3 separate regions of the Homo sapiens genome follow, and regions 1 and 2 are each linked to region 3. Evidence: fine-mapped expression QTL. A gene starts in region 3. Each other region holds a variant in brackets. All regions are shown on one strand. Distances are between the middles of the regions.

What was found. PIP is the estimated chance that this variant, and not a neighbour inherited with it, causes the effect. A credible set is the group of variants that fine-mapping cannot tell apart.
Region 1: its variant is the best candidate, but not a certain one, in a credible set for the expression of CEP44 in ovary (GTEx, PIP 0.86).
Region 2: its variant is the best candidate, but not a certain one, in a credible set for the expression of CEP44 in minor salivary gland (GTEx, PIP 0.61).

What each region holds. Positions count from the first base shown.
Region 1 is chr4:174,309,359-174,318,040 of GRCh38, forward strand. It overlaps CEP44 (centrosomal protein 44), which reads left to right. Exons shown (of 12, transcript NM_001040157.3): 8 at 492-698; 9 at 1,425-1,500; 10 at 6,808-6,932; 11 at 7,172-7,209; 12 at 7,977-8,682. The coding sequence ends at 8,025. Among named protein-coding and RNA genes, the nearest start is that of CEP44, 30 kb to the left of the region's middle. The variant G/A (reference allele first, on the strand shown) is at 3,621.
Region 2 is chr4:174,296,222-174,307,389 of GRCh38, forward strand. CEP44 (centrosomal protein 44) reads left to right here. Exons shown (of 12, transcript NM_001040157.3): 2 at 1,745-1,841; 3 at 2,851-2,989; 4 at 5,818-5,965; 5 at 7,482-7,628; 6 at 8,026-8,148. The coding sequence starts at 2,901. Among named protein-coding and RNA genes, the nearest start is that of CEP44, 18 kb to the left of the region's middle. The variant G/A (reference allele first, on the strand shown) is at 8,080.
Region 3 is chr4:174,277,748-174,288,915 of GRCh38, forward strand. CEP44 (centrosomal protein 44) reads left to right here and starts at 6,164. Exons shown (of 12, transcript NM_001040157.3): 1 at 6,164-6,196. FBXO8 (F-box protein 8) reads right to left here and starts at 5,920. Exons shown (of 6, transcript NM_012180.3): 1 at 5,663-5,920. RefSeq lists an enhancer at 6,115-6,364 and a silencer at 6,129-6,396.

The sequences.
Region 1 (8,682 bases), 30 kb after region 3:
ATGTCTTGTGATTTCTATATATCTCAGTATATCAATATACAGTTGGCACTTACAAAAACTACCAGATGGCCATTGGACCTACTTCCTGTTATATGGCAAACCGAACAATCTCAATGCACTAAGTGTTGTTTTTGGTCATTTCCTCTTAGCTTTGTGCTAAGCGTTGTTTCAAGAAGCTAGTTAATAATAGTTTTATTTTACTAGCTGGTATTAAGAGAATCATGCAAATTAACTCATTATCAGAAGAATCATATGAAATAGATACTGCTCTTATCTCTTTTTTTTTAATGAGGAAATGGAGGCATCAAGATCATAAATCTCAGAACTGGTTTAAGTGGCCAAGTAGTCTCCATCCAGAGATAGCTCTCTTAACTCTCAAGCAGGACGGTCTCTCCTAACTGTTGAGATAACGCTGTGGAAGTGAGAATACATTAATTTTAAAGAAATTTCAGTTTGTTTAATTTTATTTTTAATCTCTCTAACCTTTTTAGGATGTAAATGTTAATCCTGAGATTACTGCACTACAAACTATGCTTGCTGAATGCCAAGAAAATCTTAAGAAACTGACTTCGATAGAGAAAAGGTTAGACTGTTTGGAACAAAAAATGAAAGGAAAAGTGATGGTAGATGAAAACACCTGGACTAATCTTCTTAGTCGTGTCACTCTTCTTGAAACAGAAATGCTTTTGTCTAAAAAGGTATTTTCCTCCTTTAACATTTATAAAATATCTCAGATATAACAAAGTTTTTTTTTGATTGTTATATGTGTATTTTTTTGGAAATGCTAAATATGAGAATATTTGAATAATGAGAAAATGTCTAGTTAGAATGAAGTCCTGTTTAAATATAGCCTGTATGTTGTTGTGGCTGTTGTTTCTCTCTTCATTGAATAAGATAATCTGAAAAACTTGTCAGTTGAGCTTTTACAGATGTTAATAATGCTTGAAGAATTTAAAATGAGGTAAGAATATGATAGATATGAAAAGCTTAAAATTATTTTATATCTTTTAATAGTACAAATAACCTATTTTCATAGGGTAGAAAAGATACAGAAGATATAGGTAACTCTTCCCATCTTTTTTTCACTCATTTACTTCAATCATATTGTGAATTTCATAGAATAGTTACCAGATTTACCATTGCCTTATCAAATCTGAGAAATTTGTTTTTTTTTACTCAGGATTTCAATTTCTGGTCTGTCTTTCCTTCCTAGAAGGTGAAGTCAAGTAGCTTGCTATCTGCTTCCATATTTAAAACATTTCTTATATGTAGGAATATGCAGTATATGTATTGCTTTAATAAAAAATTAAAAATATTTAAACATTTATCATGCTACCTTTATATTTTATGCTCAGCATTAAGAATATAAAATGAGAGGGTTTTTCTTTTTATTTCATTCTAAATATTTAACTGTGTTATTCCAGAATGATGAATTTATAGAGTTTAATGAAGTTAGTGAAGACTACGCTTCTTGTAGTGACATGGACCTTCTGAATCCTCGTAAGTTTGTAAATACTATGAGAATTGGTATGATGAGTTTTCAGAAAAATGATTGTTATAGTAATTTTAATATTCTTAAGCTTTATTGTTTAGAAATTGCAAAGCTCCTAGAACAAAGAACATAATGAACCTACAGACTACTAAAGCCAAGAATTGCTTAACTAACCAGCCTACTTATTTCACATAACATAGTGGGTGAATAAATTTCAGTGTACAAAATTGAAAATTTTTAGAGATATTTTACTGTTTTAATCATTCGAGAATAATCAAGTGCTCTAGGATATTAATGTTGGCCTCCAAGTTTTTAAATTTAAGCTTAGGTAGGTAGTAGCTTTCTCATATGTAAATAATAATATGTAAGAGAAGAAAACACATTTGTCAGTATCTATAAAGTATTGCAAACTTCTTCCATGTGAATAGTTCACTGATAATGATAAAATGGGAAAGATCTGATATTAGGATAGGTCTTTTCCTGGTCACTTTACTAGGCTACTGATATTTTGCTTAGTGTGACTGAGCAGCAAGGGTAAGATTTCTGTTTTTCAGTGACAGCTTTGTTTTGATTGTTATGTATTTTTAAAAGATCTAAATTTTGTGCCATATCTATGATTAAATCATAGCTATAGAAGAGATGTTTTGTCCAATTGAGAATTCATCGTTAAGTTAAATTTTTAATATCTGTGGATTGTTAACGTTATAAAATCTTTCAGCTCTACTATATGTGTAACAATAAAATAATATATATTCTAGCACTAACAGTGTGCCTGGCACGATTCTAACTACTATATTAACTCATTTAATTCTTGAAGTAACCATTGCAAGATAAGTACTATTTTTATATTTTACAGTTGAGGAAACTGAAGTACAGCAAAATTAAGTAACTACAGCAAAGGTCACACAGTTATTGAATTGTAGATCAAATTTGAATCCAGGCAACTGATCTGAAGTTTTTTCTTGACTGCTGCATATTTGGAGCACATATCAATATCATTGCACAAAGAACAATTTCAGTGATTAGCTTGTTAAGTATAATTATTTGAGATGCTATTTAAGGCAACTAAATTTATTATAGGCTGCAGATTTCAGATTTGGTAAAATGTTGCCTGTTTTATTTATCCATTCATATATCTATTCAACAAATGTTAATGCTTGAGTATAAGATCCTTGAGAGCAAAAACTTTATCTTATGGTCTGCCTGTCTAGCACACAGAAAGTATGTCGGTGCTTTTATCACCAGTATTTGCATATAGTAGAGTTTAAATATTTATTCACTGAAAGAATATTGAATGCTTGTGATTTGCAAAACATTGCCTTTTTCAAGTTTGATTTTGCATGCTCAGGCTTATTTTTTTTTAATGACATGATTATAGAATATACCTTTAACCTATTTAGAAAACACATGGCTAAGTTTTTTTTTTTTAATTTTTTAATTTTTTTGAGATAAGTGTGGTCTTACTCTGCTGCTCAGGCTGGAGTGCAGTGGTGCAATCATAGCTCACTGCAGTCTCCTAGATGTTAACTCCTTGGCTTAAAGTGATCCTCCTTTCTCAGCCTCCTGAGTAGCTGGGACTACAGGTACGTGCCACCACACCTGGATAATTTTTTATTTATTTACATACTGTTTTTAGTAAAACAAGGTCTTGCTATGTTGCTCAGGCTGGTCTTGAACTCCTGGGCTCAAGCAATCCTCCCATCTCTGCTTCTCAAAGTACTGGGATTACAGGTGTGAGTTAACATGTCCGGGTTCACATAGCTAAATTTCAACAACTGTGCCAGGACTGAAAGTAATTAACAGGCCTCTATCTGAAATGGATTACAGATTATGATTAGGTTGAATACCTGGTCTCATAGAGTTTATGATCTGATCTAGATTAATTAAAAGACTCAAGTTTATAAAGACTTACACATTATACCTTATACATGCTACTTGGAAATAGGGTTTGATTTCATTTGAATGCAGAGAGCAATAATTTACTACTCTGGGTTTAGGATCATATTAAATCAGGAATAGTTTTTGTGAGGTTCCAGATTTGTTTTGCCTTTATCAGGAATACAGTGTTCCATGGGGAATTGTAAGGCACCTTAATGTCTTGGTAAGAGTGAATTAGCAGAGGCTTTTA[G/A]GGATTGGACTTGTGTTGGATAATTTTGGAGAGGGTTTGAGGAAGCAAGGGCTACGGGTGCTGTCAGGGAGCAGGAGCAATTTGATGATTGATGGTAAGAATGAAATTTTTAGCATAAAATAAGTACTCATGTTAGGCAAGGGGGGCTATATCTGCTCATTTATGTGGTTACATGGTGCCCTTGTTTTGTCTATGTTCGGACATGAATGGTGGTTTTGGGTGTGTTGTTTCATTATGCTAATGAAGTGACCTCATGTGATGTTCTTTTTCATGAAATTATTTATATTCATTAGAGGGTACAGTAGTTTAGGTGTTAATTGCCAGACAGGGCACCAACTGTTAGTGCTCCTTTTTTATTTGCTTGTTTGTTTCGCTTTGTTTTGTGCCTTTTTTCCCTCAGAGGAAAAAAAAAAAAAAGGTGTGCTACCACAGAAGAGTGTGGTTTGTTCCTGTGTGACTAGCAGGAAGGGTACATGTGAGCACCTGAAGGAAGCTGTAGCAGAAGAGTAGAAAGATCAAGTCATGGAGTTTATCCCAGAGTCGTAGGAAGATTTTCAGCAAGGCTAATATTCTTAGGTTTGTGTTTCACAAAGGTTATCATCAAAGCAGAATAGTGATTTGTTAGGAAAGTAAGATAGGCAAGGATAATTTGAAGAGAATTTTAGTAGTCATTATTTCAGAATAATAATGAGGGTCTCTACTAAGGCAATGATAGTGAGGATAAAGAGCAGGTGATTTATTTGGGAGAAATTTAGATGTTAAAATTGATATGCCTTGATCCTGATAGATACAAAAAGGGTGAAGGAGAGTAAGGAAGGTAACACTGACTACTTGTGTTTGGCTCATGTGATTGGGTAGGTGATTGTTACTCTTTAATAAAATAAAAAATTCAGGAAGAGGAGAAGGTTTGGGAGAAATAATGAGTTCACTTTTGAATATAATAAATTATATATGAAATCCTTAAGACAGAATATCTAGAAATCAGTTGGATACATACATTGGTCCTTGATTTAGAAGTATTGGCTTACAAATTATTAAATGGTAAAGGACCCTACTGATTCCCTTCGTGGAATAAGGTGATAAGCCTCCAAAGATGGCAGTGAAAGATTAGTTGTTACGTGGTAAGAGTTGGGTAGAAGATTTCATGTCCCATACCCCCATAATCTTAGAAGTAGAAGAGTCCCTTTCTTTACAGAGACTTCTTAGCAGTCACTACTGAAGTACATAACAACTGGTGTCAGGGTCCTTGTGTCAGTGGCCATTGCCTTTCCCCTTTCCTTTCCAACCTGAACTCAGTTACCAATTCTTTTCTCAATCCCCTATAGCACAGCTAAGAAACTATTAATGTTTAAACAAGTAAGGCTTTACTAAAGGTTCAGGATAGCAATAAGAAAAAATATAGAAATTAATGTGCAGTTAACTGATCTGGCTATTAAATATAGCTGGTGTTCTGTAATGGTCCACTCTGTAGCCTCTGGAATCCTCTGTAGGAATAACTATGAATAGCCTGCCAGCCTGCCAAATACCAGCTTTCTCCCACCATGAGGCACACTCTTGAATAAGGTTAGACACCGCAAAGTCTGGACCCCAAAATGGAAGACAAAGAGAGCCATTCCTTCACCCTTTATCTGTCTTCCCGGACCTGTTTCCTTTTCCTAGGGCCCCCTCCTCTTTTTGGAAAGATGTCCGAAATGTTCAGGACAACTATCTGTACCCACAGAAAAAAATCCAAGATTTAGTGCATAGTAGATATAGTTCCTGCCTAATTTCAAATTATTTCTTAAAATAACCTCTTGTCCATAGCTCCTACTAAAAGATCTGGGTTTAGGTAGTCTTCAGAATTACACCCTGTAATCTTGACCTCCAGGCTTAGCTAATTGGATTAAGAGTAGACACCTGACCCAGAGAATTCCAGTTCAAAGTGTGATGAGTCAAATTACATTCTCTCTCTTAGCATTTGGAATTAGGACACCACGAGTTAGTTAGTCAAATGATATTGAGCCTGGGCCGGGCTGGCCATGTGGTGGAAGTTTACGCTGATGAGTCAGCAGAGAAAGCCATTCTACAGAGAAGAGCTGAGGGATGGAGCAAATGGCAGAAGTAGGCAAAAGAGACTGTGGCTCTATGAGAGATAAAAATTAGTCTTCTAGTTGTTTCAGTTCTCAGTGGTAATAGTTTGTTCCCCAATTAAGGTTGTCTGTGTAGGCTTACAATAAAGCTCTCTTTATGTGAACCAATTTAAATGGGTGTCTAATTTTTTTTTTTTTTTGCATTGCTTTTGCAGCCAAATGTATTCTGACTGAAACACAGGGTTTGTAGGATTTATTACATTATCCGTAATCTTCTCTAATTGATATTTTTGTAGGGGAGATGCCATCATTTTGTCAAATTAATATTATCAGGATATTTGAAATGTTAGGTTTTTCCGTTTTTTAGAAAAAGAAATCTGTGGATCTTAAATTTTTGCATTACTTATTTTCATATATGTCAAATCAAGTTAGAATGTTTCTTGATTTTTAAAAGATATATATGGTCAGTTATAGTAATAGTTGTCACTTGCCACAGAACAGTAGTAAAAAAATTTGTGAAATGCTTAAATGTTGCTGAATAAAAGCATCATGACAAATTCATGGATACTAATTATTTAATGTAAATATCACCATTTTAAGAAAAGAATACGGTGAAACCCTGTCTCTACTAAAAATACAAAAAATTAGCCGGGCGTGGTAGCTGGCGCCTGTAGTCCCAGCTACTCGGGAGGCTGAGGCAGGAGAATGGCGTGAACCCGGGAGGCGGAGCTTGCAGTGAGCCGAGATCGCGCCACTGCACTCCTGCCTGGGCGACAGAGCGAGACTCCGTCTCAAAAAAAAAAAAAAAAAAAGAAAAGAATATACATGATTGATTCAATAGGTTATATTTTAAAATAAATTATTAACTTACCTGTTTATTCAAACTGATTGCTATCATGATAATAATACTGCCTTTTGTAATTTTTATTGGGCAATTTTTAACATCTAGATCTCCATATGAAAGCTGTTACCTTAAGAGTACTAAAAACTCTTTGATCTATGCGGATAGCCATTTTTAATTAAAATAGTATGTTTTTCTTCCATCTGTAAATAATATTTTTAGATATTTGACTCTTCTGTGAAAGGAAAAGGTAATCTAAAACTTAATTTCTTCACAGACAGAAAAAGCGAAGTAGAGAGGCCAGCAAGTATTCCTCTGTCCTCTGGCTATAGTACAGCATCATCAGATTCAACTCCCAGAGCCTCTACTGTTAATTACTGTGGTTTGAATGAGATTTCAGAGGTAAGAAAATGCTTAGATTATTTCCTTTCTAAATGAGGAAAACAAGCAAGCATTAGCTTTTGTTGTAAATATTGCTAGCAAGAAAAATAGCAAACGCGAATCTTAGTCTCTCAAAATTCTTTCATAAGTAAACAGTACTTAATGCAATGTTTCAAACTGTGTTTTGTACATTCTCGGTCCATCTTTGATGATGGTTTACTTTGAGAAATCATCTAAATTTGTTGCTTTTTAAATTAAAGGAAACAACAATCCAGAAAATGGAAAGGATGAAAAAAATGTAAGTAACAGAAAGGGGCAACAGAAATTCATTTCTCTATAGGGAATTGTATTGGATTACAGTATATATAGAATGTGCATGTGTGTTTCAAACCTTAAAGGTCTCTCAATCAGGTGTGGAATTTCCTTCAGGACTCCACTGGATAATAAATCCACCTACAGTTATGTGTTTGTGAGATGAGTCACTGTTTTAGTTTCCAACAAGCGATTTAAAACTTGTTGGAATTGTTAATGGAATTAACTGCAGAGAGAATACAAAGATATTTTTGGTTGGTAACTAATCAAGAGTATTATCTATTTTTGATAACTGATTTATCAAAATATTAAATAATATATATAGATGGATGGTTTGGAGACATTTTCAGTGTTGTGAAAATATCACTGGTGTTTTTCGGCAAGTTATTGATGAGATACTAAAAATGATGTTTTTGTCTAGTACAAATGGTGTGATTTTTCTAAAGAGCAGTTCAAAGGAAATATGAAATGAAATTGCATATAAGATGATTATGCAGCCTACTACTATAGAAAATTATAATATTATTTAGAAATGCAAAAAGTACTTAACTTACACTTCAAGAATATGACTCATAATCGACTCCTCTTTGTCTTCCCTCTGGTCATACTTAAGTTTATTCATAGTAACTGTACTTATAGATAAGAAAAATATTCAAATTTATTTTAGGCTAAAAAGCATAATTTCAACAACTAAAATGCTATGCTTTATTATGAATTATTGATTTACTTAATATATTATTTATTATATTTCAGGTTTGAAGAAACTGCAGAGTTACTGAAATGTCCAAATCACTACTTGTAGGATTTTCTACATGAACTTTTTTCTAGGACTTTGGTTACTATACATATTGTATATTTTAAGAATTCTTTATACAATTTTAATATACTGCAATACTGCAGTTTTTGACAATTTGGATTCCATTTGGTATATGAATTTTTGCATTCATTATTGAATAACTCTTTTAATATTTTTGAGCAATGATTATACTGCTTTACCTTGTGTCACTTTTTTTTTTTTTAGGAAAAACTCATGTTCCAGTATATTTCTCTTACAGAGTGAAGTCATTACAGCACTGTATTTCTGTGTTGACATTTGTTGGCAGTGTGCTAAGTAATGTTTTTTAAAGCACAGGCTTGAGGACTATGGTTTACATCCTGTTGGAAACATTCCAAATGGGACTTGTGTATTATACCCAGGAGGCTCTCATATATACCATCTTGGCATCTGTACTGATGAATAAGTTATAATGAACAGTTAAAAATGCTCATTGAAAATTAAATAAAACAAAAAGGCAGTTATTTCATGCTTGGTCAAAAACATCAATACCTTTCCAATTAACACTGAGAAATTAAGGTTAAGATTCTCCTTTTGTACTGGGAAACAGGCTGGAGGACTATGGTCCTCAAGTTTAGACCAAGAGGACTATGGTCTCAAGGTTCACCATGAGAAATGTGTTGA
Region 2 (11,168 bases), 18 kb after region 3:
CTTCTCTTTTACTTTATGAAATGTCACAGTGATATATCTTGGTGTGAGTTTTGTTTCACTTCTTGTGTTTATCACTCATTGTGTTCTTTCAATCTAGAGAATCATGACATTCAGCCTTAAGAGGTGTTTTTGTATTATGTCACAATTTCCTCCCTCATTTTCTCTCGTTCATGAGATGTTGAACCTTTCAGTTTGGTCCTCTAATTTTCTTATAATTTCTATTCCACTTTTGTGTCTTTTCATCCATTGTGTAACTATAATTATCTCCTCAAACTTGTCTTATTTAAATTTTTATTTTTGCCATCATTTTCAATTCTGTTGTTGATTTCTATTTAAATCCATTGTGGTCTAAAAGCAGACATTGTATGATTTATACTTTTTAAAAATGTGTTAAGGTATGCCTTATGACGCCAAAGATAGTCTATCTTGGTGGATGTTCCATGTGAAATTGAGAAGAATATGTATTCTATTGTTGTTTGATGAAGTAGTCTATAAATATTTGTTATATCCAGTTGATAGATGATATTGTTTGTCCTTACTGATTTTTTTTTTTTTTTTTTTTTGCCTGCTGGATCTATTTCTCATAGAGGAGTGTTGAAGTCTCCAACTAAAATAGGGGATTTGTATATTTCTCGTTGTGGTTCTGTCAGTTTTTGTTTCATATATCTTGACATTGTGTTGTCAGGTGCATATACATTAAAGATTGTTATATTTTCTGGGAGAATTAAGTCCTTTATCTTTATGTAATGACCCTATGTCCCTAATAACTTTCCTTATTATAAAGTCTGCTGTCTGAGATTATTATAACTGTTCCTGCTTTCTTTTGATTAATGTTAGCATGGTATATTTTTCCCTATCCATTTACTTTTAATCTTATAAACAAAATGGATTTCTTATAGACAACATGTAGTTAGATCTTATTTTTGATCCACTTTAACAATCTCTGGCTCATTTTACATTCTCACAAGCTTAATATTTTTTATATCCTTCTATTCTTGTTTTAGGTTTTAATTTTTTTTTCTAATCTCATTGAGAATTGAAAGCTTCATTTTGAAATTTTTTCTCTATATTATCTCTATTTCCACCAAATTTTTCTTCTCTGCTTATTTTGTTTAAGGTATTTATATATACTTTTCATACTGAAGCTTCCCTCTAATAGTTATTGACCTTTGGGCATATATTCAGTTTTAAACATGAGTCTCTAAGAAAAAAAGGTGCCTGGTTAGGGCTTATCAATAAGTGAGTTTGCTGCAGGTTTATTGGGCAAGACCTGCCCTTTTCAATGGGGATTTTCCTCAAATGTCAGAAATGTGATACTTTTTTCTCTAGGTCCATCCACCTTCTCTAGCATAGAACCTGATAGTCTGCTGTCACAGAGGATGTAAGTCTAACAGCTTCTTGAGGCTGAGATATAGGAAGAAACTTTATTAGTGTGTGTGTGTGTGTGTGTGTGTGTGTGTGTGTTTTCATTAATACTTCTTTCTGCCTTCGAACACTTCCTTCTGTATTGTTCGCCTTGCCTGATGTTACCAAATTTAGTGCCTCCTTGATTCAATTTCTTTGGAGTGTAAAGCTCTTTTCTCTTTCCAGGGAAGGTGAGAGGTAGTTGCCTTGCTGAGCAAGTTATGTGTGTAGGGATAGGAGGCGGGAGGGAAAATAAATTCTAGGGTTAGCTGCTTCTTATGTAGACTCTCAAATAATCATTCTTATTTCAGCCCCCTGGACTTACCCCTTTGTCTTTCAGAAGCATCAAGTGTACCTGATTTGTGAACCTATCTTGCTTCAGTTGGTTTCCTCCTAAATATTAGGCAGATGGGATTGGCTGGTCTGTGCTCTGCTAGGTTGGTTATCCCTTATTCATTTGCTTTTCATTTTCCAAAATTTTGTTGATACTTGTTTTGTTATGTGAAATCTCCTGTAGTTCTTTTTGTCCTGGTGGGTATATATGATTTTTTTTTTTTTTTTTTTTTTTGAGACGGAGTCTCGCTCTGTCGCCCAGGCTGGAGTGCAGTGGCGGGATCTCGGCTCACTGCAAGCTCCGCCTCCCGGGTTCACGCCATTCTCCTGCCTCAGCCTCCCAAGTAGCTGGGACTACAGGCGCCTGCCACTACGCCCGGCTAATTTTTTGTATTTTTAGTAGAGACGGGGTTTCACCGTTTTAGCCGGGATGGTCTCGATCTCCTGACCTCCTGATCCGCCCGCCTCGGCCTCCCAAAGTGCTGGGATTACAGGCGTGAGCCACCGCGCCCAGCCATGATTTTTAATTATTTACTTTCATTTTAGTGATCTTTAGAAAATGGAAAGGAAGGTAACATGCATTTAATCTGTCATATTTATCCAAGTGAACCCTGCATTTTTAAAATGTATTTTTAGTTTTTAGGAAAGGTATCTTTTTGGCAACTATGTGAGATCAGAGCCCTGTGACTCTGATTAAATCTGCGCTAAATTTGTCTCCATTTTTTATTGATTGTGTTATGTAGCTTCTATAAGCATCCAAAAGAGTCACTGATGGATGTTATTCCAAGTTGATGTGTCTTCTCAAACGGTGCTTTATGCTTAAAAAAAAACTATTTGGGCAAGTGTTATATAAGATACATTATAATAAGATGAATATAAGGCAAACTTATTTTTTTGGGAGGAAAACATGTAGGAGGGTAGGGGAGACACCCTATATTCAGAAACTTATAGTAGTTACAAAGTAGAACTTGAGTAGTAGAGAAGAAGCTCGGGGAAAAAGAGCTAGGGTAAGATAAATATGGTAAGTGCCAATAGGAGATATGACCAAAATAGAATCAAGAAGCTTCAAAAATACAGAGACTTAACCAGTATTTCATGGATTTCTATTTTCAGGTGAAAAATTAGACGATTTCAAGAATTGGAGCTGAATCTGATGTTAAGTAATGGCAACAGGTGACTTAAAAAGAAGCTTACGGAACCTAGAACAGGTGCTCCGCTTGCTAAATTATCCTGAAGAGGTGGACTGTGTAGGGTAAGCTATAATATCAAACTTAATTGTATTCTTCTTGCTAGTGATTTGAGATGATATTTAACATGGGGGACTACCTGAGAAAAATCAGATTTTACCTGGTTCCTATTTAAATCTGCCTTGAAATGATTAAAATATTTGAGAAAGCAGGGAATTATAGGAGTTTATTTCTAAGTATGAACTAATGAAGAATTCCAACTTAAAAGATTTAAAACTGTTTAGAAGCACAGTATTTATCTGTATAAGTTATAATCTCTGTACAGCTTTTAAACTCATAGAGGTATAATAGATTTTATTATTTGTATAATCTACCATTCTCTCATATTCAGTTGGATGATATTTCTTACAGTTAAATATATCCAGAATAAGAAGAGATTGTTGCCATTTCTTGTCAGTCTTTTCTTATCATTTATTTGTTTATTCTTTTATAGAGGAAAGATTTTATACATTTAAGTCGAGTGTTCTTTTTCATATGGAATATTCTAGTTAGTAGATTTTTTTGTGTATGGCAACCTGAAGATTGCGCTTAAGCTCTCCCATTTAACAGACCCCACTTTGAACCTTTCACTTTAGCTCCCATTTTGCAACTATGACAACGTTTTTAGAATATGGCAACATACATTTTCCTATATTCATGCCTATATAATATGGTACTGCAGTCATTCTGTATCCCTTCATAATTCTGTTTCTTCATGACACTTACCCTTAACCTTTTATCATTGATTAATTGATGGATTGGTTAAATGTTCATTGGTTACTAGAATGTAAGCTGAAGTCTTGGACTTTGTTTTTTGTTTTCACTGTGGAATCCCCCCATCTAGAATTATGCATGGCACATATTAGGAGTTGATTAGACATTTATTGAATGAATGAGTGTCCAGGGACAAGTCCAAGTTAGATGTTCAAGAGTAGAGGGAAACTTGTAAGTAGAATCCTTCAGTAATGGGCTTTACATATAAGAATGGATATCCATATAAGAATGGATATTCTAATAACTCTTGAGGTTACAGTAGGGAGAGGTAACTCAAGAGAAGGCTGAAAGTGAAAGGATAGAGAGGAGAGTAAGGAGAAAGTTTAGCTCAAGTTGCTGTTATTATAGGCATTATATGTGAGAGGCAGAAGATATGAAACAGATGTAATCCATGTATGTAAAAATCATCTTGATTCCTCAAAACATGAAAATCCTGACCATCCAGAACTTGCAGGGGTTTAACCAGTTTGAGTAGCCAAGTCTTCTCCTTGCCACTTTAAGTGTCAACATTTTAAAAGACATTTTAAATAGGAATAATTCTAAAATATACCAGTATTATCTTGTTTTCTAAATACAGTGTTTAAACATTTAATTTTCTTATTACCCAAAAGCATCATTAAGAACAACAATTTTTAGATTATTATATAACATACTAAAATCTGCAGGGTCTATTGAGATTTGAAATGCTACTTGCTTCTTCCACAGAGGCACTCAGATTGCTAGTCTCCCTGCCACACACATTTAAGCACACACACAACACCCCCATCATTTTGATTCTTTTTTCTACTTTTTCACATTTGTTATGTTTTCTGGCCATTTGCTGTTTTTTGTGTTGGCATCTGTTTTTCTTACTGTTTCTAATATGCTAAGTCCTTAGGAACTAGATAATCAAGATTTTTGAAATTGTTTAACATAAAAAGTGTTAAATGTGTGCCTGGCTATCATCTATGTATAGTGTGCATAAAATGGACAGATTTTGCTGTTCAAAGGTATTTTTTTTTTCATTTCCTGTTTTTGGACTGTGTTTCAGATAGACAAGGTTGCCAGAGGAGTTTTCTGATTGGGTGAAATATTACAGTATTTCAAAGAAACATAAAAGAAATAATTCATATTTGTCCAGTAAAACAAAATGCAGTGCTATCATCATGTATTTGTTCTCTGTCTTACTAAAAATTTGGGTGGAGATGGGGATGTTTATGTGAACATCTTGAATTTTTTGGAAAACATTTGCTTTATATAAGTACAAAATACTGCAATTGAACAAATGTAACTGGCAAATTGAACAAATACCTCCTGTGCTTTGTTGTGGGAAAATCAGTGAAGGTACTTCACATTGAGAAAATAAGACAGGAAACACTACCAGACAGATAAAGACACAGCAGATACTGAGTAGCCTGGGAGTCTTTCTTGGAGAGATCAGTATAGATCAGAAAGTTGAGGAAAGCTTCATGGGAAGCTTGAGATTTGATGAATGATTTGTAAAAAATAAATAATAATTGGATAAGCAAAGAAGAGTGGGATACCTTTCTAGACTGGTGGAATTAACATAGGTAATAATATACGATTTAGAAGGAGCAGTAAGTGAAAAGTAATAGACTGGTCAACCAAGTCACAGTTCATGCTTTTTCCCATCCCATCTTCCTCATCTGTAACTTAGAATTCATAATATTTACCTTTGGAAGTTTGTGGTAGAGAGCAAAGGAGGTAATAGAACAAGTGTTTGCAAAACCATAAAGTGTACTTCAATTTTGTAAGATGGTACATTGCTTTTATTAGTAGTAGAAAATGGAGTAGATCACGTAAGACTAAGCTTTGGAAAATCAATGGTAAATAGTTGGTACTAGAGACCTATAGTAAGTTTTTTGAGCAGACGAACAGTGGTATTTCATAGTAGTCTGGCTAGACTGGTTTCAAATGGGGAATGGAATCTAGAAAGTCTCATGTATCACCTAATTATTATAGCTATAGTGTTAAGTTTTAAATTATTATAAACATTTCTAATATTTTCTTGATTATCCAACTTTGTGGAATTATGCTTATTAAATGCTTATTAAAAATATTTTTCTTTTTTTCCTAACAGTTTGATAAAGGGAGACCCAGCAGCATCTTTGCCCATCATCAGCTATTCTTTTACCTCATACTCACCTTATGTAACAGAACTTATAATGGAATCCAATGTAGAGCTCATAGCAAAAAATGACTTGCGCTTTATAGATGCTGTCTATAAGGTATTTTGAGTTTATCAAACAATAACTATTAGTTATTGAATGATTTTTAAAAATTAATGATTTAGTCATAACTTCTTAAATATATGCAGCATATACAATTGACAGGATATTTTCATTTGTATTTATCTCATTTAAATGTAGTCTCTATTGAAATCAAGATGCAATTCATGTTTGCTTTTTGAATGTTACCTATTCTAATAAATACAGCAACTGGTAAATATTTGTTGTTGGCTATTGTTTGCCCTTTTTAATCAAATTTTAGTAAAATTTGATATACTGGCAGAAATTAGAGAGTAATGTAATTATATTCAATAAAACTTACAGTTTTTTAGAATTATATGTTAATTTAGTTGTTTGTAAGAAGGAACTATTACTGACATTTTTTTTTTATTAAACTGATATATTCTTTGAGGTCTGAGAGCATGTCTTATATTGTATCTACCCTAGTATTTATACTTGTACTATGTGTATACTGAATTTAATCTCTTATTTGATTTTTTTAAAACCCTGCTTTTATCATTAATTTTTGCTTAAGTACTGTGGTTTGTATTAAAGTTAGTTTTTAATGGTAAAAACCCACTTATCAAATGTAGTCTATTTTTTTTTTTTTTTTGAGACAGAGTCTTGCTCTGTCACCAGGCTGGAGTGCAGTGTCACGATCTAGGCTCACTGCAGTCTCCGCCTCCTGGGTTCAAGCAGTTCCCCTGCCTCAACCTCCTGAGTAGCTGGGACTACAGGCGTGCACCGTGACCACGCCTGGCTAATTTTTTGTATTTTAGTAGAGAGGGTTTCACCATGTTGGCCAGGATGGTCTCGATCTCCTGACCTTGTGCTCTGCCCACCTTGGCCTCCCAAAGTGCTGGCATTACAGGCATGAGCCACCGCACCCAGCCTCAAATAGTCTTTTAAAAAAAGCAGAGTTGCAGTCAATGAAATGGGAGCTTTTATATGTAGTCTCTGTTTAATCTTTCTCTTTCTTGCTTTTGATCCCAGAAGACATCCATGGAAGCCTAAGAGGCACTTTTAAGAAATTCTAGAGCTCCACAGAGTAGATTTAGGAAACTACTGATCTAGTGTGTTTTTTTTCATTTTACAAATGAAAAATTGAGACCAAAAGGCCTACTGACGTATCCAAAAATCACATAGTGGAAGAGTTATAAACAAATAGAACTATAGTTTCTGACTCTGGTATGGTATTCTAGTGAACTAAGAAGTTTTTCTAATATCTCTGAAGATATTTACACTTTTTGATGATTGACTATATTTTTCCATCTCTCTGGACAGACATCTGTTCTCCAGCATATCCTTTGCTACCTGTTTTCCACCTGATACCTGTCTTACTGGATCATGACTTAACACCAGCCCTATGAATTACTTTAGTACTCTTTAGTTAATGGCTTGGTTTTCCTTGTCCTCTCAAAGGTGGCCATTATTCCCCTGACCAGGTGGGCATTATCATTTGGAATTTTAGAAATAAATTGCTCCCAATTATTACAAGAGTCTGTTTCCTCTGCAGCTTCTTCGTGATCAATTTAATTATAAACCAATTTTGACAAAAAAGCAGTTTATCCAATGTGGGTTTGCAGAATGGAAAATCCAAATTGTTTGTGATATTTTGAATTGTGTGATGAAAAAGCACAAGGAATTAAGCAGTCTTCAGAAGGTAATTTTATGAATAGATATTAATGCTGATGTATGCTATTAATAGATGGCTCAGTATTTTAATGTATAAAATCAAAACCCTAGACAGCAAATTATTTCATAGTGTAATTACTGTATTATTCAAAGATTTGAGTAACCTTATAAAGCTTGTTGTTTATTTTAAATACTACTCTCTTGTTTTATACACCTGTGACTGGGAACTCCTAGTGTTAAACTAATAGTTCAAACATAATACATTTTCATTACTTCTTAGTTTTTAAAAGTCATGTAGTCTCATTAGAGTCTCATTATTTGTCAGCTATATTTCATATATGAAAATTTAAATGTTAATGGAATTTTAATATATAATTATGCTTTCACACAAAATTTGTTATTTTGACTAATACCTTTTTTTTTAGATTCCATCACAACAAAGAAAGAAAATCAGTTCTGGTAAGTCAGAACCTCCTTTG[G/A]GCAATGAGAAAATATCTGCAGAGGCTGTTGGCGTTGATATCAGTGGCAGGTTTATGACCTCAGGAAAGGTATGCAACCACAAAGAAAATATCATATTGTTTAAGAGTTATCTAATTAATCCAATATACAGTTTTCACTTTTCTGATTGGCACCTGATGAACATTCTAGTTAGATATTGGAGTTCATTGATTTTTAACAGTGCATGCCATATATTTTTGGGCAGTATGCCTGAAGTTATAACAATAGGATAGAAATATAAAATTAAATACGTGTTCTCTTTATATTTCTAATTTCTAATTCTGCCGGATTTCCTAAACAGAAGAGTAGTGATTTAGGAAGATTATCTTATGCAGTTATCTACATTTGCTCTTAATTGTGTTCTGGTCTTCCTAAAACATGGGAACATATGAAGAGCCTACATTAGCAGTAGTGATAGGTTATAATGATTCATTTATGTACATTATATTTCTGTAACCAAGTATGAATTATCCAATAATTGGTAGTCCCTACACGTAGAATCTGGTTTTCAGTTAATATTTTGAATATTTTCTCTTTCTTGAAAGATAATTTTTCTGCCATTATCTGCTTTGAGCAGCTGTGGCAAATTGAATCTAATGCACTTAGAGCTACAGTGTTTCTATCACTAAGGGAGACTTAAGCTAAAATATTATTTATTAATATATTTTCAGCTGTCTTCCAGCTGGAGAAGACTCTGATTGAATGATAGAATATCAGATGAATTATCAATGGTGTAATTAAGTAAAGGATGTGAATACTTTCTGACTGAAGTATAATCTAGAGTATTATTTCTGCCCTAATCCAAAATACATGAGTTATGTAAACAGAATCTATTTTAAAAATTTATTCTTGGGTCTAGCACAGTAGCTCATGCCTGTAATCCCAGCACTTTGGGAGGCCAAGGCAGGTGGATCACCTAAAGTCAGGAGTTTGAGACCAGCCTGACCAGCATGGCGAAACCCCATTTCTACTAAAAATACAAAAATTAGCTAGGCGTGGTAGCTGGTGCCTGTAACCCCAGCTACTTGAGAGACTGAGGCAGGAGAATCGCTTGAACCCTGGAGGCAGAGGTTCCAGTGAGCCGAGATTGTACTACTGCAGTCCAGGCTGGCTGACAGAGCGAGACTCCATCTCAAAAAAATATGTTTATTCCTTTATACCTTAAAAAAGTGAAATTTTATTATAAGAAAATGTTCTTATGCCACTTCTTTTTAATGTACCTGTTTTGCTCTAGGTAATGAAGACAATATAAAGAATGATACAAAGCCGCCATTTTTGAATAAGTGCATGTAGTTTTTGTACACTTGCATCTCTAACTCATCTAACTCTTGTTAGTTTTATTTATGATTTTCTAACTGTTAAATGACTTATATCTTGTATTCTTCCCCAACTAGAAGGAACATATATGAACAGGGATTTTCTTATACTGATTTTTTGTACCTTCATTTTGCTTAGCACAGGATTAGGAACACTGTGAGCACTTATTAATTATTTATTGATATAATGTGCTTTTCAATGTTCTATTTCAGTATGAGAGTTGAGGGGACAGTGTAAATTGTCCTAGCCAAGAAAAATGTAAACTTCAAAACATTAGACTTATTTTTAATTTTCTTAAAGCAAAGTTTTCTTTGTTATCTATTAAAATTTATACCAGATCTTTATCAGAAATTTGAATAAGTATTAAAAGTTCTCAGATTTAGAAAAGAGTCTACAAGTACATTTCTTTGTTTACAAGCAAAAGTTGAGTCAATATTAAAGCAAATTGTCTCCTATCCCAGTGCCTTATATAGTATGCCTATTTGCGCTTCTGAGTCACATATGTTTTTATAGTGTGTATGCAAACTGTAGAATAGGAAGCAGGTAGAGGATTTCTAGGTAAATGCATACCGTGACCTAATGCTTTTTTTGTCAGGACTTCTTCGTTGTCATTATTAGGTTTGAATTGTTAGCTGAAGGTCTAATAAATTGCAGTTTGTTTAACAGAAAAATTGTAATGAGCCCTACTCATAGAGCCAGTTTTTGATTATTTATAAGTGAATTATTTGGCAATCTTTTTTAAAAATAACTTTTTATTATGGAACATTTCAAACATTTACAAACATACCCATCATCCAGTTTCAGCAATTTATCAACTCTTTGCTAATCTTGTTTTGTCTTTATTTTAAATCAAATCTCAGACATAATTTAATAAATATTTCAGCGCTTGTCCTAAAATGTAAGAATTGTTTTAAAAGTCATAACCCCAATTTTATCATCACACATAAATTATTGGTAATGTTAGTAATGGTAATATTTTGATATATATATTATATGTGATAATTTAAACTTTTTTTAATTTTTAAAGATTGGTGTTCCTTTTGCAAAATTGCTGTATGTTTAAAATAATTGTAGGAGGATCTTCTCAGCCCAAAAGCTTCTTAAGCTGATAAGCAACTTCAGCAAAGTCTTGAGATACAAAATCAATGTGCAAAAATTGCTAGCAATCTTATCTACCAACAACAGTCAAGCTGAGAACCAAATCACAAACAAACTCCCATTCAAAATTGCCACAAAAAGAATAAAATACCTAGGAATCTAGCTAACAAGGGAGGCAAAAGATCTCTACAAGCAAAACTATAAACCATTGCTCAAAGAAATCAGAGATGACACAAACAAATGGAAAAACATTCCATGCTCATGGATAGGAAGAATCAATATTGTTAAAATGACTGTACTGCCCAAAGCAATTTATAGATTCAATGCTACTCCCATTAAACTACCATTGACAGTCTTCAGAGAACTAAAGAAAACTACTTTAAAATTTATATGAAACCAAAAAAGACCCAAATAGCCAAGGCAATCCTAAGGAGAAAGAACAAAGCTGGAGGGATCATGCTACCCAACTTCAAACTATACTACAGGGCTACAGTAACCAAAACATCATGGTACTAGTACCAGAACAGACACATAGACCAATGGAAGAGAATAGAGAACCCAGAAATAAGACCACACACCTGCAACTATCAGATCTTCAACAAACCTGATGAAAACAAGCAATGGGGAAAGGATTCCCTAGTCAGTAAATGGTGCT
Region 3 (11,168 bases):
GTAAATGTCCTGTCTCAGATAAAGGTTTAAAATGTGTGCTACAATAGTTATCTCTAAAATACAAATTCTAACGATAAGGAAATCCACTTATATGTTTTTATAAATTTTCAGTGCTTTTAAGTAAAAAGTAGCAACTCTATTTTTGGTTACTTCAGGTTTTAAAAATCTTTAAGGGATATCATGTGATATTATTCAATAGCATAAGAACATGGGAGAGTCTATGAGAAAATATTTTCTGAGACATTTTGAATCAAATCAGGAGCCTAGCATTTATTTCTTCACTTCCAAAAGAATAGACCACCAAAGAAGTTTAGAACAGACTGCGTAGAGAAATTTTTTAAAAAAGAAAAAAACCCTGATAACCAATCACATCCCTAAAATTTAAAGGCAACAAATGTAGAGAAATAAAGGAAGGGTAAGTCCACAAGGAGGTCTTTCTAAGGAGAAAAGGGAAATAGCTAAGTACTAAGAGGTCACAAGGTACATTGAACACATAAAAAGCCCCTACTCATTAAATTTAAAGATCTGGTCCTGCAAGAGCAGTTTTTGTTACTAAAAGGCATACCATTTGCAGGTTTTGGTTTTTTTTAATTCAAAAAGATTTACAATATTACTTTGTTCCCTGAAGGTTTTTTTCCTGTTAATTTTATTCTATAAAAAGTGTTACCAAAATGGCAACTAAATAAATGTAAAAATTAAGATGTGTTATTTAAATGCAACCAAAAATCTAAGAATTTTAGGCTTATTCAATTTCTGTGGTTTGTTTTTCAAGAAATGCTCCATTGTCCAACTATTTGAAACTTTAAAATAAATGTATCATACTTCTCACTAGCATTATTTTTAATTATATGGTTCTTACTTAATTGTATCACTATTTACTTAAAGTGGCTGTAATCAGCTGTAGTCATGGTAGCATATCCTAACCCACCTTCTCAGTATACACATACTCACCTGCCCACTAACCACAAAGGCCATTGCTATGAGTGCTATGGAATTAAAAACCAAAACAAAAGTCATAATTCTCACTGAGTTGCTTTTATACAAATAAAACAAGGTATTAAATTAAATGAATATTGAAGGCAGCCAGAAATAGGAGGAAGGTGAAAAATGAGAAAACATTTAATAGTGAAAAGAGACTGATGGAAAGAAAACATGAGTTTGACTCAGTCTCCTTCCTTAGCTAGTAGGGAGCATCAGCCAAGTCACTAAAATTTTGAGGTCTCAGTTTCCTCCCCTGTAAAATAAGGGTTTTGAAACTGGTGTTCCCTAAGGTCTTTTTTAGCTATAAAATTCCATGGTTCCAAGAGTAATTAGACAAGAAAAAAAGTAAAAGACAACCAAATTGGAAAGAAAGCAGTAAAATCCTTTGTAGTTACCCTAAAGATTCTACCAAAAACTTACAACTAATAAATCCATTCAGCAAAGTAGAAAGACATAAAGTCAAGACACAGAAATAAGTCGTATTTCTATACATTTACAATAAACAATCTGAAAAGGAAATTAAGAAAATAATACCAACTACAACAGCATCAAAAAGAATAAAATACTTAGGAATTAACCAAGTAGGTAAAAGGCTTCTGGAATGAAAGCTACAAAACACTACTGAAAGAAGTGAAAGACAAATAAATGGAAGTACATCCTGTGGTTACAGATTGGAAGACTTATTAAGATGGCAATACCACCCAAAGTGATCTATAGATTCAATGTAGCTCCTGCCAAAATTATAATGACGTTTTTTGCATTAATAGAAAAAAATTCTAAAATCCACATGGAATCTCAAGGGACCTCTAATAGTCAAACCAAACTTGAAAAAGAACAACAAAGCTGGAAGACACTTTCTGATTTCAAAACTTATTACAAAGCTACAGTAACCAAAACAGTATGGTATTGGCATAAAAAGAGACATACAGACCAATGAAATAGAACAGAGAATCCAGAAATAAACCATCACATATATGGTCAAAAGATTTTTGACTAGGTGTCAAGATCATTTAATGGGGGAAAGGACAGTCTTTTCAACAAATGGTGCTGAGAAATCATATCCACATTCAAAAGAATGAGGTTGGAACCTTACCCAACATTATCTATGAAAATTAACTCAAAATGGATCAAAGACTTAAATCTAAGACATAAAACTGTAATACTCTTAGACGAAAAAACAGGGCAACAGGGCAAAAGGCTTACAGCACTGAATTTGGCAATGATTTCCAAATGCACAAGCAACAAAAGAGGAAACAGACCAACTGAACATTATGAAAATTAAAAAAAAATTGTGCATCAAAAGACAGTATCAACAGAGTAAAAAGGCAACCCACCGAATGAGAGAAAATATTTGAAAATCATGTATCTGATAAAATCTAATATCTATAATTTACAGATAACTCCTTTAACTCAACAATAACAAAAACATGATTCAAAAATGGGTAAAGGACTTGAAAAGACATTTTTCCAGAGAAAATACACTAACGTCCAATAAGCACAGGAAAATACAGTCAACATCACTAATCATTAGGGAAATACAAATCAAAAGTACAATGAGGGACCACCTTATACCCATTAAGATAGTTACTATCGAAAAAAAAATAAGTCTTGGCAAGGATGTGGAGAAACTGGAACCCTTATGTATTGTTAATGTGAATGTAATACGTATGGTACAGCCTCTGCGGAAACAATATGGAGCTTCCTAAAAAAAAATTAAAAACAGAATTACCATGTGATCTAGCAATTCCACTTTCAGGTATATACCCTCAAGAATTCAAAGCAGGGTCTGGAAAAGATATTTGTTCACCCATGTTCATAGCAGCATTATTCACAACAGCTAAAACATGGAAGCAACCCAGGTGTCCAATAACAGATGAATGGATAAGCAAAATGTGGCTGACACATATAAGGGAATGTTATGTGACCTTAAAAAGAAGAGAAATTCTGGCATATGCTACAACAAAGATGAACCTTGAGGACATTATGCCAAGTTAAATAAGCCAGTCAAAAAAAGTCAAATACTGGATAAGCCCATTTATATGAGGTTTTGGTTCTTTACCACTTTCCAGTAATATGAATACAAACACTTCCGGTTTCCAAAACTGGAAACAAAAGGTAGAATGGTGATTGCTAGGACCTAGGAATGGGGAAGGGGAATTATTGTTTAATAGGTATAGAGTTTCAGTTTTACAAGATAAAAAGAGTAATGAAGATAGATGGTGTTGATGGTGGCACAACATTATCAATGTAATTAATACCATTGAACTGTACACTTAGAATGGTTAAGATGGTAAATTTTATGTTACGTATATTTTACTACAATTTAAAAATTGGAAGAAACAATTCTGTGATCCCATAAAAATAAAATGAGGGAAAAAACTCTGAAAAACAAATTAATAAATAAAAGAAGAGATGATGGCGTGCGTGTGTGTGTATTTAACATCTGTCCTTTCCATCTCTTTTTTCCCTATATTCATGACTTCCACAAATCACTACTCCATATAGAGTCTCTCCAAGCTTGGCTTACTTGCTAAAATCTGGTTCCTTCATTCAAATAGCTTATGAATCCTATGCAATCTATTCTTGAAAAATACACGAACTGCTGACTAAATGGTTAAACTCCCTAAAGCTGTTGCCTAAACTCCAAACCACAAATATTTTTATCTTATATTGCTATAAAGTACTTGCACCAGCACAGTGGCTCACACCTATGATTCCTGAACCTTGGGAGGCTGTGGAAGGAGGATCGCTTGAGCTCAGGACTTCAAGACCAGCCTGGGCAGCACAGTCAGACAAAAAAATTAAAAGAAATAACCACACGTGATGGCGTGTGCCTGTGGTCCCAGGTACTCTGAAGGCTGAGGTGGGAGGGAGAATTGCTTGAACCTAGGAGGTCAAGGCTACAGTGAGTCTTGTTCGCACCACTGCACTCCAGCCTGGGCAACAGAATAAAAATCTGTCTCAAAAAAATACTTGCCCCAAATATGATATAAATTTATTCAAGTCAGCCAAAAATGTTTTAGTTTATTAGAGAGCTAAGTCAAGAAATTTGTCAGAAAAACAAAACAATGAGAGCAAAACGAAAAAGAAATAGTGAACATAAATTTCCAGAAATAGATGTATTTCATTTAAATTGTTTAAAAAATTATTTAAGTAAAATAATTCAAGAAAAAGAAACAGAAATTAAATGCATAATTCTTAGACTTTAGTATTAATGATTTTGATGCATTATCATGGGTCAGTCAATGGAATAGTGCCAGTTTCCAAATCTGAATCAAAATGAGGAAAAAATTAGTTGTACATTAGCAGTTGGTTAAATAATAAACCATAAAGTTACAAATCTGAATGACTAATTTCAACACACTGTGATTAAAGATTTGGTAATTCAATGTTTTTATATTGTAAAATGAGGAAGATATCTTTTAACCTAGCAACAGTAAACACACAAAACATTCCCCATTAAAGTGACCATATGTAATAAATTATGATCAATGTTTTGGCTTATCTAGAAGTTACTATAATATTTTGTGGATGGAAGTAATTGATCCAAGGGCCCCAAGTAATATTAGTTAATTTGCTGTAACTTATTATTAAATGAAGTTACGCTGCACCCTAATTCCTGATGTACAGAAACTGATAATATTTGTTGTTTTAAGCTGGGGTAAATTTGGGGGTAATTTGTTACCCAGCAATAGACAACTAATGAAGTACCTCATCAGACATATTGTCAGGTTAATTGGCTAAAGATGAATTTCTGACCCAATATGAAAAAAATAATAAAACTTATGCATTCTTTATTCTGAAACCTACTCTGTTTCACATATCATTTTCGTGAAGGGTAGAGTTGAGAAGTGTGTAGAGCTCCTACCTCAGAAATACATTACTTCAAACATTAAAAGAAGGAAGAGGAAAGCTGAAATAGAAAACATAAATTGTCTTCACTTTACCGTAATAAAAATCATGATATATTCATTTGTGGATATACACCTAGGAGCCTTGAAAATGAATATTTTACTTGTAAAACAAGTAGAATCAATTATTTTATTAGTAAATTCATACAGAACCTAAAAATAAAACTAAAAAAATTAAATGACTGAGGATTGGGATCCATTTATGTGATTTTGCCAAATAAATATTGAGAACCTTCTACGTAAGAGATTAGAACCCAGTCGCTGAGAAACAAATAAAAGACAAGTTTGACAAGTTTTATAACCCAAGTTTGACTACTGTAGCAGCTAGCAATCCATCGTGATCTTAACTATACTTGTGTTTGCATTCATATTACTGGAAAGTGGTAAAGAACCAAAAACTGTCTAGGAACCAAAATAACACTCGACCCGAAAACCAACACTTGGACCTGAAGAAAGTAACCCTTGTCATTTCTCAGGTTTATTTCACAATGACGCTGGGTTACTACTTGGAGTCCTAAACCGAACTACACCCCAATGGCCTAGAAACAGAAGGAACACACCCAGTTCCGCCTCCTGACAGTGATTCCTCACTTTAATGAGCCACCACTACTGTCACTCAAGATGCTTCGCACTGTCATTGGTCGCAAACTCTTGCTGGTCGGCCAGTTTCGGCCAACTGGCAAGCACTGGTTGTCTTTATTTTCGAGAAAAGTGAAGGTGAACAGGGAAAAGAGACAAGAGATCTAAAATATCTAGGTTGACTCCTGTACCTGAGCGACCTGCGATCTCCACCGCCGCCGCGACGAATTGGCCTCTGGGCGGGGACTTTTAGCCAAAAGGAAAATGGCTCAGCCGGGAACTGGTGCCCAGGCCATGGAGAAGCTGATTCAAACTTTACTTGTCCACACCGGTAGAGGTGACCGCGATGAGAATACCAGAAACAGCACTACGACCCTCAGAACTCAGGGTACCTCCAGCTGCAGGGGCCAGAACTGCCGACTATCCCAATTTTGACGTTTCCTATTGTTGCCGGAAGTGACGTTAGGCTCCGACTCTTAACGGAGACGCATTTTTATTTCTGTTGTTTACGATTCGCTATAGATTCCTTGTTTCTCACTTCGTAGCACGAGCCACTCTGACCATCAAGATCAGAAAAACTTCTCAGCTGCAAGTTAGAAGTGGACTGGCCATTGAGGAGGCTCTCAGCGGAGTCGCTCTTCACAGGAGTCTTGAACGCGGTGTGGAATCGGCAGCGAGGAATCCTGGAGCACAGAGAAGCTCCCAGCTTTGAAGGTCTTGCGGTGGTGCGTGGCGGGCAGGAACCCACAATTCCAAATACAAACGGTCGGCGCGAGAAGCGCTTCTGGGCGCAGGCGCCTGGCTGTAGCGACTGGTTGCGGGAGGCTGGACTCTGGTGACTGTGTATGGTTGCATATGCTCCGTTTTCCTCTCCCTGTCGTGCTGGGCCTTTGAAACCGGCTTCTTTGCTGGTGGCTGCTTGGTGAGCCCCGAGGAGACGGCAAGGCTGCGCCTGGTATTGGGCGGAGGTCGCCTCTCTCCGCCGTCCTTACAGAGACCCCGGGCGGAGACGAATGACCAGATCCGCCTTTTCATTCTTTTAAATCAAATGGCGGGAGGGGAGCCTTGCTTATATACCCAACTAGTATATGCTTTTAGTCACAACGAAGTGGGAAGTATCGTGGTAGCTCATCCTATCAGAATTAGGTTGTGACTTAGGGTTGGAAAGTTATAGGCTTACTGATTCCTATTGGATCCTCTGGGGTGAGGATACAAACGGCTCCTGACTATAAGGAAGACAGGACAGCAGTTCGTGTTTTCCTTGTTGGCATTTCCCCAGCTTTTCAAATATTTCTCCACCTTTATTGAAGGCTACAGATTTTTCCCTCACTGTAACAAGTTAATCTTGAAGTTGTTATTCTCTTTTACTCTGGAATTATGGCCATGCTAGACTGTTTTTTTCCCGAATTATCTGCAGACCTTTTAATTTTATGTGTGAACACAGCAGTCCCGTTGAACTCTTTACTTGTCCCTTACTCCTCCCCACTCCCGCCCAGCTTTCTCGATGCTTTGCCTTTCTCAGACCTTTCTCCTATCTCTTAGAGAAGTATTTCCCTAATATCTTTTGCAGTTTCATAAACTGTTTTTCTCATCTTTACTTTTTTGTTTTTGATACGTGTTTTTAGATAATATCGAGCATTATGTGCTATGTCACAAACTCTTAGCCATTGACTGTTATTAGAGTCAGTGTAGTTGCTTCATTCTAAACAAAAATCACTCTGGTCCAGTGACATTCTATTGGGAGGCATTGTTTTAATGACCTCTAACAGCAATGAGATTGAGCGATGTTGAAAATCCTAAACTGCTAGAGTACACTATTTTCACAACCTCTCCCACAAGTTCAATTGCGCAGATCTGACTTGTAGACAAGGAAGGAAGCTAGAAAGGAATATTGAGAGCTTCTTTATTATTGAATCTATGCTGCAAGCTGAGTGGTATCTCCTTTTTTCCTTAGTTTGCCTTTGATCAGTGCTATAAGTTGAAAATGTTAAATTTTTAAAAGTATTTTTCATTAATGAAAGTAAGGTGTTAAAATGTACATAAGTAATAGATTGGCTTCTTTTAATGTCTTGTTTTTAAGGCTTTTGAATTTTATAGTAGACTTAGTAAAGCCCTTTGTGAGAATGTAGAGCAGTAGCTGTAATTTTATTCTGTGATAATCCCAATTTTAAATCCCTTTATTTTTCTGTCTCCTATCACTTACCTCGTTCACGAGCTCTGCTTGTATTACTCTTCAAAATATTTATTCACTGGTACTGAAGAGAGACATAACTTTGTTGTCAGAAATTCCATTATCAGAGGTAGAAATCATGTAAGAGACACTGAAATGTTTTCCAAAATGTCAGAAAAAGGAAAGGTGAGAAGATATCATAAAGTGTTACGTAAAACAGAATTACTTGCACTGGGAAAATGGAATATACATCTGGAAGGACTAAAGGAAGTCTGGAAAGACATAGAATTTACATTAAAGTTACTGGGAAGAAGGTATCCCTAGAAGAATTGTGTTACGATAGATGGGTCTGGAACCCGAAAGAAGCTCAGACCTACTATATTGGCCAGTGGCAAAATCCAAGAATACATTTTTTGCGGTTAAAGCCAGAGTAGTCCTCACTTCATGTTTTTCAGGAAAGTAAAGGCTTATCTTGGGAAATCCCTTTTAGGCTTCCGTGTGTCCATCTACCCCCAGTCAGTCTAAAGGATATTAAATAGGGTTTACCTTCTTGGCCAGTGTTTTGTATAATGTGATTTCAGGATGACTTTCTCTTTTTCTAGTTATCTCCCATTTGACAGTACCTAAAATTATCTCTGTCTAGAAATGTAAATGTTTAGTTGAAGTAATTTATTGGCTGAAAAATAGTGACTAAAATGTGCATGCACAAGTCTATAAAGTATATTCAATAAGCTGTTGCCTACCATGTTGATAAAGGAGACTAGGAACAGAAAGGTAGGTTCATAAAGAGGGAGCAGTTGCTCTACCCTGGGGAAATGGCTGTGGAAATGAGTGGCGAGGGGCTTAAAGTAGGAAGCTTACTAAATTTAGGATTTTGTAAATCGGTGACCTTCTTACCTTTCCTTATTTAAAGATAGAGAAACGGTGTGTAAAGGGATGATTTGTATCCTGGACAGCTGGGTAATGCGAATTGGAGGAAAAGATCACACTAACCCAGCTTCACCTGATTTATGAATTGTTCTGTTTTCATTTTAATATAATGACTTCATTTTAATGTGATAACTTCATTTTAAAGGAGCTTCATTCTCAAAGGGTTCATTACTCAAGGTATTGTTATGTATTACTTTTCTTCTATGAAGTGTCCATGGACAGTTGTGGTAGATGTTTTTATGTAAGTTATTGAGTTTCACGTTACTGGCTGACTAGACTTTTATAGTTCAGAAACTTACCTCCTTCCAGCAAAGGTTCTTAATCGTTTATATACCTATTTATGACTCTTCTTTGGGAAAAATCTCCTTTGATAATCTAATGAAAGTCCCACTCCATGCAAGAAAATTAGTCATTTAGAAATAAATTCCATGCTATTACTTTTGGGGCAGTTTTTAAAAAATGAATCATTTTGTTTAAAGTCTCAGTTCGTTCAAATCTTTTGGTTCACGTATGTGTTTTTCTGTTGTGTACATTCTTCAGAGTCATATTCCTGTTTCATAGGCCCCATGTATGTCAGCTTTTAGTAGGTATCACCAGTAAGTTTTCCAAAATAATTGTACCATTTACTCTTTCTGTAAAAAGCATAGATATTTTGAATTTCTTGCCTTTTTTTCTGTGTTCACCTTTTCTTCTTGGAAGTAGACAGCTGGCTAACCAGCAGGAGTTTGGGACCGATGACAGTGCAAAACATCTTGACTGACAATGGTGGTGGCTTATTAAAGTGAAGAATCAGCATCAAGAGGGGGAATCGGTGTATTCCTTCTATTTCTAGGCCATTGGGATATAGGTCGTTATGGGACCCCAGGTAGTAACCCAGCTCATTCTGAAATAGAGCTGAGAAATGACAAGGATTAAGTGTTGCTTTTCAGGTAGAGTGCTATTTTGGACCCTTGGCACAGATTTTGGTTCTTTATTATGATAAGTACCAAGAAGGAAAAGAACTGGGTCTATTAGAGAAAATTAATGAGGGGGATTAATTAGTTTGGGATCTAAGACTTATTTGAGGTGGTGACATTTAAGCAGGATGCCGAGGGGTATTAGCCAGATGGAGAATGGGAGAGGGAAGGAGTTGCTCTGTATCTCTTCAAGCTTGAAGAAATGGCATGTGCAAAGGTGTTGAACAGCTTGAGATATCACCAAACATCCTTATCCAGGTCCAGGAACTTTATCCCAGATACCATTTCTGTTATTTGTTGCTTTCTATAATATTTTAAATTAACTAAATCACACACATTCTCTTTTTCATCATTACTTGGTAAGTGGAATGTTTTGATTTTCCCTTCTGGTTATGATTTACATGTATTAACTTATTAATACACGAAGATCAAAAAGTGACCAAAATTGTTCAAAAGGTACAATTTATTATAGGATAATTATAATTATTTCATGCTGACAATATGTTTATAAGTGTTTTGCAGTAACCTTTTTGTTTCTATAATTTCATGGTAAGAAAGAAAATGAATTAGGTAGAGCTAGTAATACCAGGTATAGACAAGAATGTAGTATTTAAAGCTAATATCTGAAATTCTCTTCTTGCATCTGCTAACTGAACGAGAAAATTCTGTGTGTGAGAATGGAAAACTTTGGGTGAAAAGTGAAAACTTGGATTTTGTAGTCCAGGCCCTTAATTAAGTAGATAACACACTCAGAAGGAGAAAATTTGGGGTGCTTTATATACAAAGGGACTATTTTTAGAGGTGTGTGTACAGGGATCTGGTGCTGCTTCATTTTTTAACCTGTTTATTGCGGTATGATTGACATACAGAAAGCTATAGACATTTAATGTATACAGTTTCTGTTTGGAGATAAGTAGATATTGTGAAACCATCCAACCATTATTACTACAAGAAATCAATGCCATCACCTTGAAAAGTTTCCTTCTACTCATCTTTTTTTCACGTTTTGTGATAAGAGCACTTAACATTAGATCTAACTTCTTAGCAAAATTTTAAGAATACAATATTGCTAATCACAGACACTGGGTTGTACCTGCAGATCTTATTTATTTTGCCTAACTGAAACTTTGTACCCTTTGAACAACAGCTTCCCATTTTGTTCTCCCCATGTTCCCTTACAACCACCATTCTATTCTCTGCTTGCATGTATTTGACTATTTTAGATTTCACATACATTGAGATAATACAGTATTTGTCTTTTTGTGTTTAGCTTATTTCACTTAGCATAATGTCCTTCAGGTTCATCCATGTTGTTGCAAATGGCAGGATTTCCTTCTTTTTTAAAGGCAAATTTGTTTATTCTCACATTTTTGTTGGGGTCCCTAAGGTTTTCTACATCTAAGATCATGTCATCTGCAAACAGATATTGTACCTCTTCTCTTTTTATTTGGATGTTTTTAATTTATTTTTCTTACCTAGTTATTCTGGCTAGGACTTAAAATACTACGCTGAATAGGAGAGGCTAAAGTAGGCAACCTTGCCTTGTTCCTCATCTTATGGGGAAAGCTTTCAGTTTTTTATCTTTAAGTATCTTAGCTGTGGGCTTCTCATAAATGGACTTTATTTTGTTTTTCCTTTACC